2 linked regions of the Homo sapiens genome follow. The protein of the gene in region 2 purifies or fractionates together with the protein of the main gene of each other region. This does not show direct contact. Each region holds a gene or a part of one and is shown on either strand. Other genes may lie near its edges.

The links.
Region 1: the proteins of VCPIP1 (region 2) and UFD1 purify together in Homo sapiens (affinity purification with mass spectrometry; 2 studies listed by BioGRID and IntAct, with this or other methods). This does not show direct contact.

Annotation. Positions count from the first base shown.
Region 1 is NC_000022.11:19,457,471-19,462,602, forward strand, and holds part of UFD1 (ubiquitin recognition factor in ER-associated degradation protein 1), read right to left. Parts: intron 670-5,132; coding exon 601-669; intron 1-600. UniProt on the Homo sapiens protein: Essential component of the ubiquitin-dependent proteolytic pathway which degrades ubiquitin fusion proteins.
Region 2 is NC_000008.11:66,627,011-66,632,731, reverse strand, and holds the end of VCPIP1 (deubiquitinating protein VCPIP1), read left to right. Parts: 3' UTR 1-4,245; downstream 4,246-5,721. UniProt on the Homo sapiens protein: Deubiquitinating enzyme involved in DNA repair and reassembly of the Golgi apparatus and the endoplasmic reticulum following mitosis. Necessary for VCP-mediated reassembly of Golgi stacks after mitosis.

The DNA of each region.
Region 1 (5,132 bases), on a different chromosome or scaffold from region 2:
CTTCATTCCTACTCAGAAGGTTCAGTACGCTTCCTTAGCTCTTAAGCATATTCACTCCTCGGCCAGGCGCGGTGGCCCACACCTGTAATCTCAGCACTTTGGGAGGCCGAGGCGGGTGGATTACCTGAGGTCAGGAGTTTGAGACCAGCTTGGCCAACATGGTAAAACCCTGTCTCTACCAAAATACAAAACTAGCCGGGCCTGGTGGCACATGCCTGTAATCCCAGCTACTCGGGAGGCTGAGGCAGGAGAATCGCTTGAACCTGGGAGGTGGAGGTTGTAGTGAGCCAAGATCGCACCACTGCACTCCAGCCTGGGCAACAGGAGTGAAACTAAGTCTCAAAAAAAAAAAGAATATTCACTCCTCAACGGGTCAGAGCTAACCATGGCAGCACTGGCAGCAAACTCTGTTGCCCCAACTGGCCCTGAGATAGATCACAAGGTCACAGTCTCCTCATGATGTTCTGACAGCATCTTCCTCCTCTTTACCCAGAGTCCCAGGGGCTGTTTGATGCCCTCCTGACACCCTGGCCTGCAGTGGTCACCAACTGCCCATCCTCCCAGGGCCCAGGCTCACTGTAACTGGACAGAGCCACTCACGTTCATGTCACACTCAATGATGGACACTGCCTTGTCGGGTTTGGTCTCCATCACACGCAGTTCGTAGATCTGTGGGGCAAACACAGAAATCAGTTGGATGGTTTCCTGGCAGCACTGGAGCTGTCGCTGTCCATGTTACTGTGGCTCTACTGGCTCCTGCGAATGACACAGCATTCATGCCCATGACACAACCTACAGCTGCACTTCTTGCTGTGACAACACTGCCATAAGGGACAGGCTGCCCTGTGCCCATCGCTGAAGAGATGCTGTTCCCCAGATATGGTTCAAATTAGACAAGGTAGTTATACAGCTAACTGCAAAAGACACTAACAACCTTTAACCTGGAAAGTTCACTTCTGGAACTTTACTATTTATTTTATTTATTTATTTTTAGACAGAATCTCGCTCTATCGCCCAGGCTGGAGTGCAGTGGTGCGATCTTGGCTCACTGCAACCTCCGCCTCCAGGGTTCAAGCACTTCTCCTGCCTCAGCCTCCCTAGTAGCTGGGACTATAGGCATGTGCCACTACACCTGGCTAATTTTTGTATTGTTGTAGAGATGGGGTTTCACCATGTTGGCCAGGCTGGTCTCGAACTCCTGACCTCAGGTGATCCGCCCACCTCGGCCACACAAAGAACTGGGATTACAGACATAAGCCACCGCACTCGGCCTTCGAAATTTATTCTAAGTAAATAACTAGCTATACCCAATGAGAAAATTCTAAGAATGCTCATACCAACGTCACTAATACCACTGTACAGATGCTCCTTGACTTATGATGGAACCAAGTCCCATAAACTTATAAGTTAAAAATGTATTAATATTCCTAACCTACCAAACATCATAGTGCAGCCTGCCTTAACCATTCTCAGAACACATACATTAGCCTACAGTTGGGCAAAATCATCTACTATAAAGCTTATTTTATAATAAAATGTTGAATAACTCATGTAATTTATTGAATACTGTACTGAAGATCAAAAACAGAATGGTTGTATAGGTATTCAAAGTATGGTTTTTACTGAATGTGTATCATGTTTGCATCATAATAAAGTTGAAAAATTCTAGGTAGAACCATGGTCAGGGACTGTCTGTATACTCAAAATGCAGCTGAATTATATTTCTTCATATGTAAATTTACAGTTATACAATGGTATGCTACGCAGCCAACAGGAAAATAATTGTAAAACCAGTCATGTTGCTTGTGTCTAAGATGACCTCACCTATGTAAAAAAGGCACATAAAAAATGTCCAGAAGCAGGGCCGTGCGTGGTGGCTCACGCCTGTAATCCCAGCACTTTGGGAGGCCGAGGAGGGCAGATCACGAGGTCAGGCAAATGAGACCATCCTTGCTAACATGGTGAAGACCCGTCTCTACTAAAAAATACAAAAAATTAGCTGGGAGTGGTGGCAGGTGCCTGTAGTCCCAGCTATTCGGGAGGCTGAGGCAGGAGAATGGTGTGAACCCAGGAGGTGGAGCTTGCAGTAAGCTGAGATCGGGCCACTGCACTCCAGCCTGGGCAACAGAGCGAGACTCTGTGTCAAAAACAAACAAACAAACAAGCAAACAAACAAACTCCAGAAGCATAGAAATTAAAAGTGGCCCTATCTACTTTTTCCTGCATCATTTCAGGTTCTTTGCTTTTATCTAAAGTCTGTCTTGCTTTTTTTTTTTTTTTTTTTTCGAGATGGAGGCTCGCTCTGGCACCCAAGCTGGAGTGCAATGGTATGGTCTTGGCTCACTGCAACCTCCGCCTCCCGGGTTCCAGCGATTCTCTTGCCTCAGCCTCCCAAGTAACTGGGACTACAGGTGCGTGCCACCACACCCAGCTAATTTTTGTGTTTTTAGTAGAGATGGTGTTTCACTATGTTGGCCAGGCTGGTCTTGAACTCCTGACGTTGTGATCCACCCGCCTCAGCCTCCCAAAGTGCTGGGATTACAGGCATGGGCCACCATGCCCGGCCAGTATGTCTTGCTTTTACAACCATTTTAAAAAGTCTGGATAGTCCCACCATTTAAAAAAAAAACCTAAGCAGGGCCAAATCTACTTTTAAAAGTGTCATAATTATTGAATAGATAAGGAATAAAAAAAGGATCTGTCATTGTGTGGATATACTACCACTTATCCACTGAGCATCCGGCCTGTTTCCAATCATTTTGCTGTGTTAATGACACTACTATAAACATTCAAACATGTCTCCTAGGGCTTGGCTCATGCTTCTCTACCGTTTTCATGTTTTCAAAAGGCCACAAATAATCAGTGGGTCATAAAACCAACAGGGCTGCAAGCAGAACTGAAAAGGAAAGAATTGGAAGACAGTACCCTAGAAGTACTATTGCATTTAGTAAGGATAAATATTCCTGTGACATTTTCCATTTACTTTTATGTATTGGCATAATATTAAATACTTTTTTTTTAAACTATGGGACCAATTTTCTAGGTTGGTGCTCCTCAAACTACCTGGGAAGACCTAGTTTTTAAAAATGTGCAGTCTGCTGGACTGCCATGTGGTCCTCCTGCACAGAAGCAAGACACAACACACACCAGACGCCCAGAGCTCACCAAGACAAGTACTGGTTCTGTGGCCATGTGTGTGGAGGTTATGACAATGCCAAATTACTATACGTTTCTAAACATTCACTTTTGATTCCTGCTTCCTCGAGGCCCTGGCAACCACCATTCTTTTTTTTTTTTTTTTTCCCTTGAGGCAGGGTCTTGCTCAGTCCCCCAGGCTGGAGTGCAGTGCCTTGACCCTGGCTCACTGCAGACTCAACTGATCCTCCCGCCTCAGCCTCCTGAATAGCTGTAACTAGGCACATGCCACTACGCCCAGCTAATTTTAAAATTTTTTCATTAATTTTTTGTAGTGACAGGATCACACTATGTTACCCAGGCTACTCTCAAACTCCTGGGCTCAAACAATCCTCCAACCTTGGCCTCCCAAAGTGCTGGGATGCCAGGTGTGAACCACGGTGTCCAGGTGATTCTACTTTCTGTCTCCCATGAGTTTGACTACTCTAAGTACTCATGTAAGCGGAATGTAGTATTTGTCTGTCTGCATCTGGTTTATTTCACTGAGCAGAATGTTCATCCATGTGGTAGCATGTGTCAGAATTCCCTTCCTTTTTAATGTTGAATAATATTACATTGTATGTGTGTACCACATATTATTTACCCATTCATCTGCAATTTATTTTTGACTATGGTATGAGTTAGGAACTCAATTTGTTTTTTCATCTTAGGAATAGTCAATATCCCAGATTCCGCAACCCCAGTATCTCCTTTGCCTGGTGACATCAATGCTGCCTCAGTGGTGGACCAAGATTCTTTGTATATAAAGCTTTCTTCCACTGGCCTACTTGTCTACTCCAGAACCAATGCCATATGGTGTCTTAACTACTGGAGCTTTATTACACTCAGCTGCCGTATAGAATCTTCCTTATATATGACCAGATTCTTTTGTCAATATTTTATCTACAATCTATGTATCTGTATCAAGTGACAATGATCTGTAGTTTACCTTTCTCCTATCCTTGTGTGGTTTTGGTGATCAAGGTTATGCCGACCTCAGAGAATGAGTTGGGGGATATGTTCTTTCTCTATTTTTAGAATATCTAAGAGCAATTTATTGCTTGAGTGTGAGGAAGAACTTGCATATATAACCATCTGGGCCTGTGTTTCCTGGATTAAGATTTTTCTGATTGAATTACTTGACTGGCTATACAATTATTTAGGCTGTTTGTTTTTTTTTTTCTTTAGTCAAACTTCAATTACACTTTTCTCTAGGAAATAATTTATCAATGTCAAATAAGTTGGCTCATTTCTTAGTATAAAATTTTTCACAGTTTTATCTTTCAAGATATTTGCTTTATCTAATTCATTTTATTTGTTTTTAAACATTCAATATGCATGTAGACTTTTCAGGGTTTGCTTTTTTTTTGTTTGAGGCAAGGTCTTGCTTTATCACCTAGGCTAGAGTGCAGTGGCACGGTCACTGTTCACTGCAACTTCTGCCTCCCGGACTCAAGTGATCCTCCCACTTCAGCCTCCCAGGTAGCTGGGACTACAGGTGCATGCCACCATGCCCAGCTAATTTTTGTATTTTTTGTCGAGATGGGGTTTTGCCATGTTGCCCAGTCTGGTCTCAAACTCCTGGACTTAAGTGATCCACCCACCTCAGCCTCCCAAATTGCTGGGATTACAGGTGTGAGCTACCACACCCAGCTTCAGCTATCTTTTTTATTAACTTTATTGAATTGTAAACAGAGAACACTTTAATTCTAAACAACTCTCTCAAGAGAGTAAGTCTAGGCCAGGCGCGGTGGCTCACATCTATAATCCCAGCACTTTGGGAGGCTGAGGCTGATGGCTCACCTGAGGTCAGGAGTTCGAGACCAGCCTGGCCAACATGGTGAAACCTCGTCTCTACTAAAAATACAAAAGTAGCCGCAAGTGGTGGCACATGCCTGTAGTCCCAGCTACTCAGGTGGCTGAGATGAGACAGGAGAATTGCTCGAACCCAGGAGGTG
Region 2 (5,721 bases):
CACTAACCACTATAATTATTTTTGGCTTTTTCAGCCACTGGAACTTTTTTTGGGGGGATTTAAATACAGGAAAACTGTTTAAGCAAAAAATGCACTGCTTTCATGTAAAATGATATAATCTTCTTTAACAAATATTTTCTTCATTGATAACTGACAGATATCTCATAGCATTAACATAAAATACCAGAAACAAACTTTATCTCCCTATTCTTACATTTAGTGCAAATTGGAATGCGTATGTGAATGTTAGAAGATGGACTTAATCTCTGACAACTTTATTAATTTCTCTAGCTACAGCAATGCTATTTAAAAGCCAGTTAGGTATGAATAGTACAGTAATAGTTTGGGTTCTCCCTTGATAAATGAATAAAAGGCTCAATTCTGATAAGTGATCAAATTTCTTGAAATTCTTTCAAATCAGCTGAAAATTTGGTTGGGGTGAATTGATGGTTTTTGAGAAGTAGGCCAGGTATCCTCACAAAGAAGTTTTAGAATAGGGTTTCTTTTAAGTTTTTAAATATCATCCTTTGTCTTTCCATATGGTTTTCATAACCAAATACATGACTATAGCATGGTTATTTTTCTAGTACTGCCATTTGTGATATAGCCACATCTTGGCGTGCAAGCTAGACATCTCAGGTAAATTTGTTTTTTTTTTTTTTTTTAGCCCTAGAGGTAACATTATAACTAAAATGCATTCCTGCAATTCTGTTTGCAGTGCTTCACTAAACATTGAAATAAAGTTGTAAATTTTTTCTTCAGTAATCCATTTTATAGTTAATCATACCAAATTTAAGTTGATGACCTAAAGTCCAGGTAGTGTTGAAGATAGTATGTATCTAGAATACTGGTAATGAGAAATTGTTGTAAATTGAAGAAAACAAGATGCTGCCATATATTAAGATAGAATATAATTAACTCCATGAGAATGGTTACTCAGGAACTAGTTAAAGAGCAAACCCATTTCTCCCGCTTCACTCTGTTTCAGATATTTTTATTGGAAAATGTTAGGGTAGAGGCCTGAGAAAGTTAGCAAATGCTATTGACTGATACTGGCTCTGTGTCTTCCAGTGATTTTTAGTTTGGTTTTTACAGTCAAGCCTACTGCTTGCAATTAAGATATCAATCTGAAATGCATCTGTAATTCCTGGCCACAGGTCCTTATTGCCATTATTTTTAAGTATCTTCATTGGAGATGAACACTGACTTTTGCATATGGTCTCTTACCTCAGGGAAGATCACTTGCTAGCAACTCATACTACTAATGACAGGTTTTTGAGAATTGTACTGACATCACATGTTAGCTACTAAATGCAAAATGTATAAAAGTATTGTTTTATGTAGTTACCTACCAATACTATCTGCTACTGAATAACTCTCTAAATATGTAGACCTCACTAATAACTAACCTTTAGGTAAAAAATTTACTTCTGTCATTAATTACACTTCAACTGGTCAATATAGTGGCAGCATAAAGTGTTTATTTCAGAATATCAATACAGTTTTGTCTTCATTTTTCAACAGTAATTTCAATTGGTTCATACTTAAAATACTACACAGATTTTGAGTTTTATGGTTCTCAAAGCAAGGTTTCCATCTTAAGATTTTTATAAACACAAAGCCTTTGCAAAATTGGATTAAATTCCACCTATCTTAATGTGAATTAAAAACCACCATTTATAATAATAATAGCGCCATATTCTAAGTTGAGTAAATGCATCCTACCATTCAAGGTTATCATATAATTTAACAAAATTGTACAACCTTAAGGCTCTTCACAGTATAAATTAATTTTTCAAACCAGAGCTGTTCACATGAAAATATTCCTTAGTAGAATGTATATTTAAGAAATAAAACAACAAAGGGGAACTATATCACCCATGTAAGTTATAGAGTTAATTACAAGTTCTACCATTCTTGATAATTCTTTGAGATGCTAAGTGTTTCAGTTCATATTTAATGATACTTAAATCGTGGGAATTTTAATGTTTGTTCCAAAATAGCAGAAATTGTAAAAATTATGAATTATTGGAGAAAATGCCATTACTTGTATATCTGACATTTAATTTTTTAATTATGGAGACTACATGCTTTTGTAGTATAATATTAATGATTATTCTCTTGTAAAAGAAAAGGAAAAATTAGTAAAGAAAAAAGTTTTAGTTGATGTTACCTGCTTGTGAGTATCAATTACTTAGTTTTTAAATTTTTAAGGTATTGCCTACTTTTCTTTAGAATGCAGAAATCTCGTCCTGAGCCCTTATTATGCCTGTGGTAGAGCAATGCAAGACTGAAAAGGTTGCCAGTATTTTCAGGCTTATTTGACTAAGAATTAGTGCCAAGAACTGGAAAGTCTACTTTTTGGAGGGAAATGATACTTAGAATTTGTAAACATAAGCAGTAATAGTGTAAATATTTAGAAAAATAGCAAGTGCTTTAACTGCTCAATAAAATAGTATAGATGTTATTTCACCCTTAAGGCACTGGCTGTTGCCCATTATTTTCCGATTTCGTGATTACTGTATATATTACATTTGAGTAATGAATAATTGGTAATAGTGTATTATAGTGTTCTACAGCACACCTTACTGTACAGTATTTGAAGTTTTCTTTTATATCAATAATAAAACTATAAGTTAATACTGATTTTCCCCTGAAATTCTCCACATTAGCTTTTAAAGGTAATTTTATGTTCTTTAGTTTCCTGGAATTATAATGCATGAACATATAGTTCAGTTTTATAAAGAAATTCTTAAATAATAAAGTTTTCTTGTTGAACTTAAGCGGGTTATCGTACAGGAATAGTGATTTTTCCCCTTAATGTAGATTTCATTGCTAGATGAAATGGACCCAGTGAAAAAAGAGTGCGCAATTTAAAAAAAAACCAAAACGGTCTCACTCTGCTGCCCATGCTGGATTGCCGTGGCATGATCAGGGCTCACTGCAGCCTCAACCTCCTGGGCTCAAGTGATCCTCCCACCTCAGCCTCCTGAATAGCTGGGACTACAGGCATGTGCCACCACACCTGGCTAATTTTTGTATTTTTTGTAGAGATAGGGTTTTGCCATGTTGCCCAGGCCGGTCTTGAACCCCTGAGCTCAAGTGATCTGCCCTCCTCTGCCTCTTTAAGTGCTGGGATTACAGGCGTGAGCCACCGCACCCTGCCAGCAAAATTTCTTTAGACATATTACATAATTGGGCCATAATGCTTACTGAATATTTAAAAATGAAGGCAAATTCTAACAGAGAACTTGATTTTGTGGTGGTTTAAAAAAATACTGGTTAGTGATAAGGAAATGAAAGGAAATACAGATAATAGTACTAAATAACGTTTGTGTAGCTTAGCAGTCAACACGTTTACTTCCAAGTTTTATTGTATATGCTTAATATACATTTTATTAGATCATTTAACTCAATAATTTAGAGTATAGCCTTAGACACCAGACTGCCTAGGTCTGACTCCTGGTACGCTGCTTTCTGTGACCTCTCTGTGCATTCCTCTCTGCGAGGATGATGATCACATCTGCTCCCAGGGTGGCTGTCTTAAATGAGTTAACACGTATCTGATGATTAGAAGAGTGCCTGACACATAGTAAACACTCAAATATTTGCTATGTTATATGTTAATGTAATGTGGTAGAGTTCAGTTGCCATTAAGTGGGATAAATCCTCACAGGGCACACATTATTTAAATAATTTGTTACATTAAAACTTATTTTACTTGTACATAATTGACTAAAAAATGGGGGGTTGTACATTCAAACATTTATGACCATGTGCAACACTGAGAATCTCAAACCGACAGTGTGCTCTGTGACCCAAGGCAAGTCTTGGAGCCTTTCAAGGCCTCAATTTCTTCTGTAACCTTGTGGTTTCACAATTGTCAACCTTTTGTTCTGCCGACCATTGTCGTCATAGTCTTACTTGCAGAGGGCATAGTGCTGATGGGACAAGTGACATGGGTATGAGCCCCATGTAAACTAAAACATAATTACCTTTCCTTTAGGTGTTGGCTACAGTTATCCCAAACTTGGACTTGAGGTCTTGTATATGCATGCCATTGGTCACATACCATCAGAATAGAATTCTCAAAAACTCTTTAGTAAATAAGATAAACATCCTACTTATAACAGCTCATTATGGATTTTATTTTTATTGTCTGGCTCTTTCAGACCCCAGCAACTGCAATTCTGACTTAATAATCAATTGTTTCTAATCATTAAAAATGTATATAGAAAAACTGAAGTAAGTCTTTAATTGATTTTCTGAACTGTATATGATACACTGAGGTGAAAAACATATGGGCTCTTCAAATTTGCACACTCTAGAAGTAAACCTGTCTTTGGCCCATTTGTCATACCACGTAAATTATTTGAGAAACAGATAAATTGTGTAGGAATCTGGGGGGATTATTCCTGTTTGTTCTATTTACAGAAACAGGTATAGTACAAAGTCTACCTATAAAGTGATGACATTTTTATATTTGATTTATGGAATCAGTATTTTATTTTTAATTTTCTTTTTTGAGACCGAGTCTCGCTCTGTTGCCCAGGCTGGAGTGCAGTGGCACCATCTTGGCTCACTGCAACCTCCGCCTCCCAGGTTCAAGCAATTCTCCTGCCTTAGCCTCCCGAGTAGCTGGGATTACAGGCACCCGCCACCATGCCCGGCTAATTTTTGTATTAGTAGAGACGGGGTCTCTACTAAATAGAGGGGTCATTCATTATTTTAAACAAGTACTGATAAAATGCCTGTTTTAAAAACTTGGGAAACAGTTCCAAATGAGAGAAATTCCATGCGTCCTTAGAGCTTACATCCCAATGATGGAGACAAGCACAAAACACATTGGTAATAGCTAACATTTAGTGACTCTTTCCCTTGTATCTGGGCAATAGGCTGAACACTACATGCAATAATTAACCGTCAAAAGCCTTTGTGGTTGGGTACTATCATTATCATCTTTTAGGAAACAAGTTGATATAGATTAGTTGGTTTACCTGAAGTCCTGGAGTTAGGTGGCAGAGTTGAGATTTAAATCCAGATGTTTAAGACTCCATAGTCTATGCTGTTAACTTTAATGCTACATTTGTAATTTAGCAAAGGAATAAAATTTGGTGGTCACATAAGTCTTTACAAACATTTATTGTTAAATCTAGCTTGTTTTTAGATACACCAACATGGTTTTAATTGATTTCAGTGTATAGAGTATCTGGCTTTTTTTTTTTTTTTTTAATACAGATGGTCTCTCTGCTGTGCAGGCTGGAGTGCCCAGTGGTGCCATCATAGCTCACTGCAATCTCAAACTCCTGGGCTCAAGTGATCCTGCTGCCTCAGCCTTCCAAATAGCTGGGACTACAGATGTATGTCACCTCACCTGGCTAATTTATTTTTTGTAGAGACGGGGTCTCCCTATGTTGCTCAGGCTAGTCTCAAGTCCCAGAAGTGCTGGGATTACAGGCATGAGCAACAGCTTTAATTTCACTTCCTACTAGTTCCCTTCCTGAACCCTAGTCCTCCATCTCAAGTTCTTCCTTCCTTGGATTTGTTTTCTTGCCTCCTCTAAATTTGGAGGTGCTTTAAGGAAGAGTTTCAGAATTTCTTAGATGACTAACCTGGGTACATTTGAGAATCACTGGTTAAAGTCCAGTTTTTCAAGGACCTAAAATAATTCTTGTTTACTAAGTGGGTCTGCTGCTTTGGAGGGGAGGTTTCCCAAAGGTG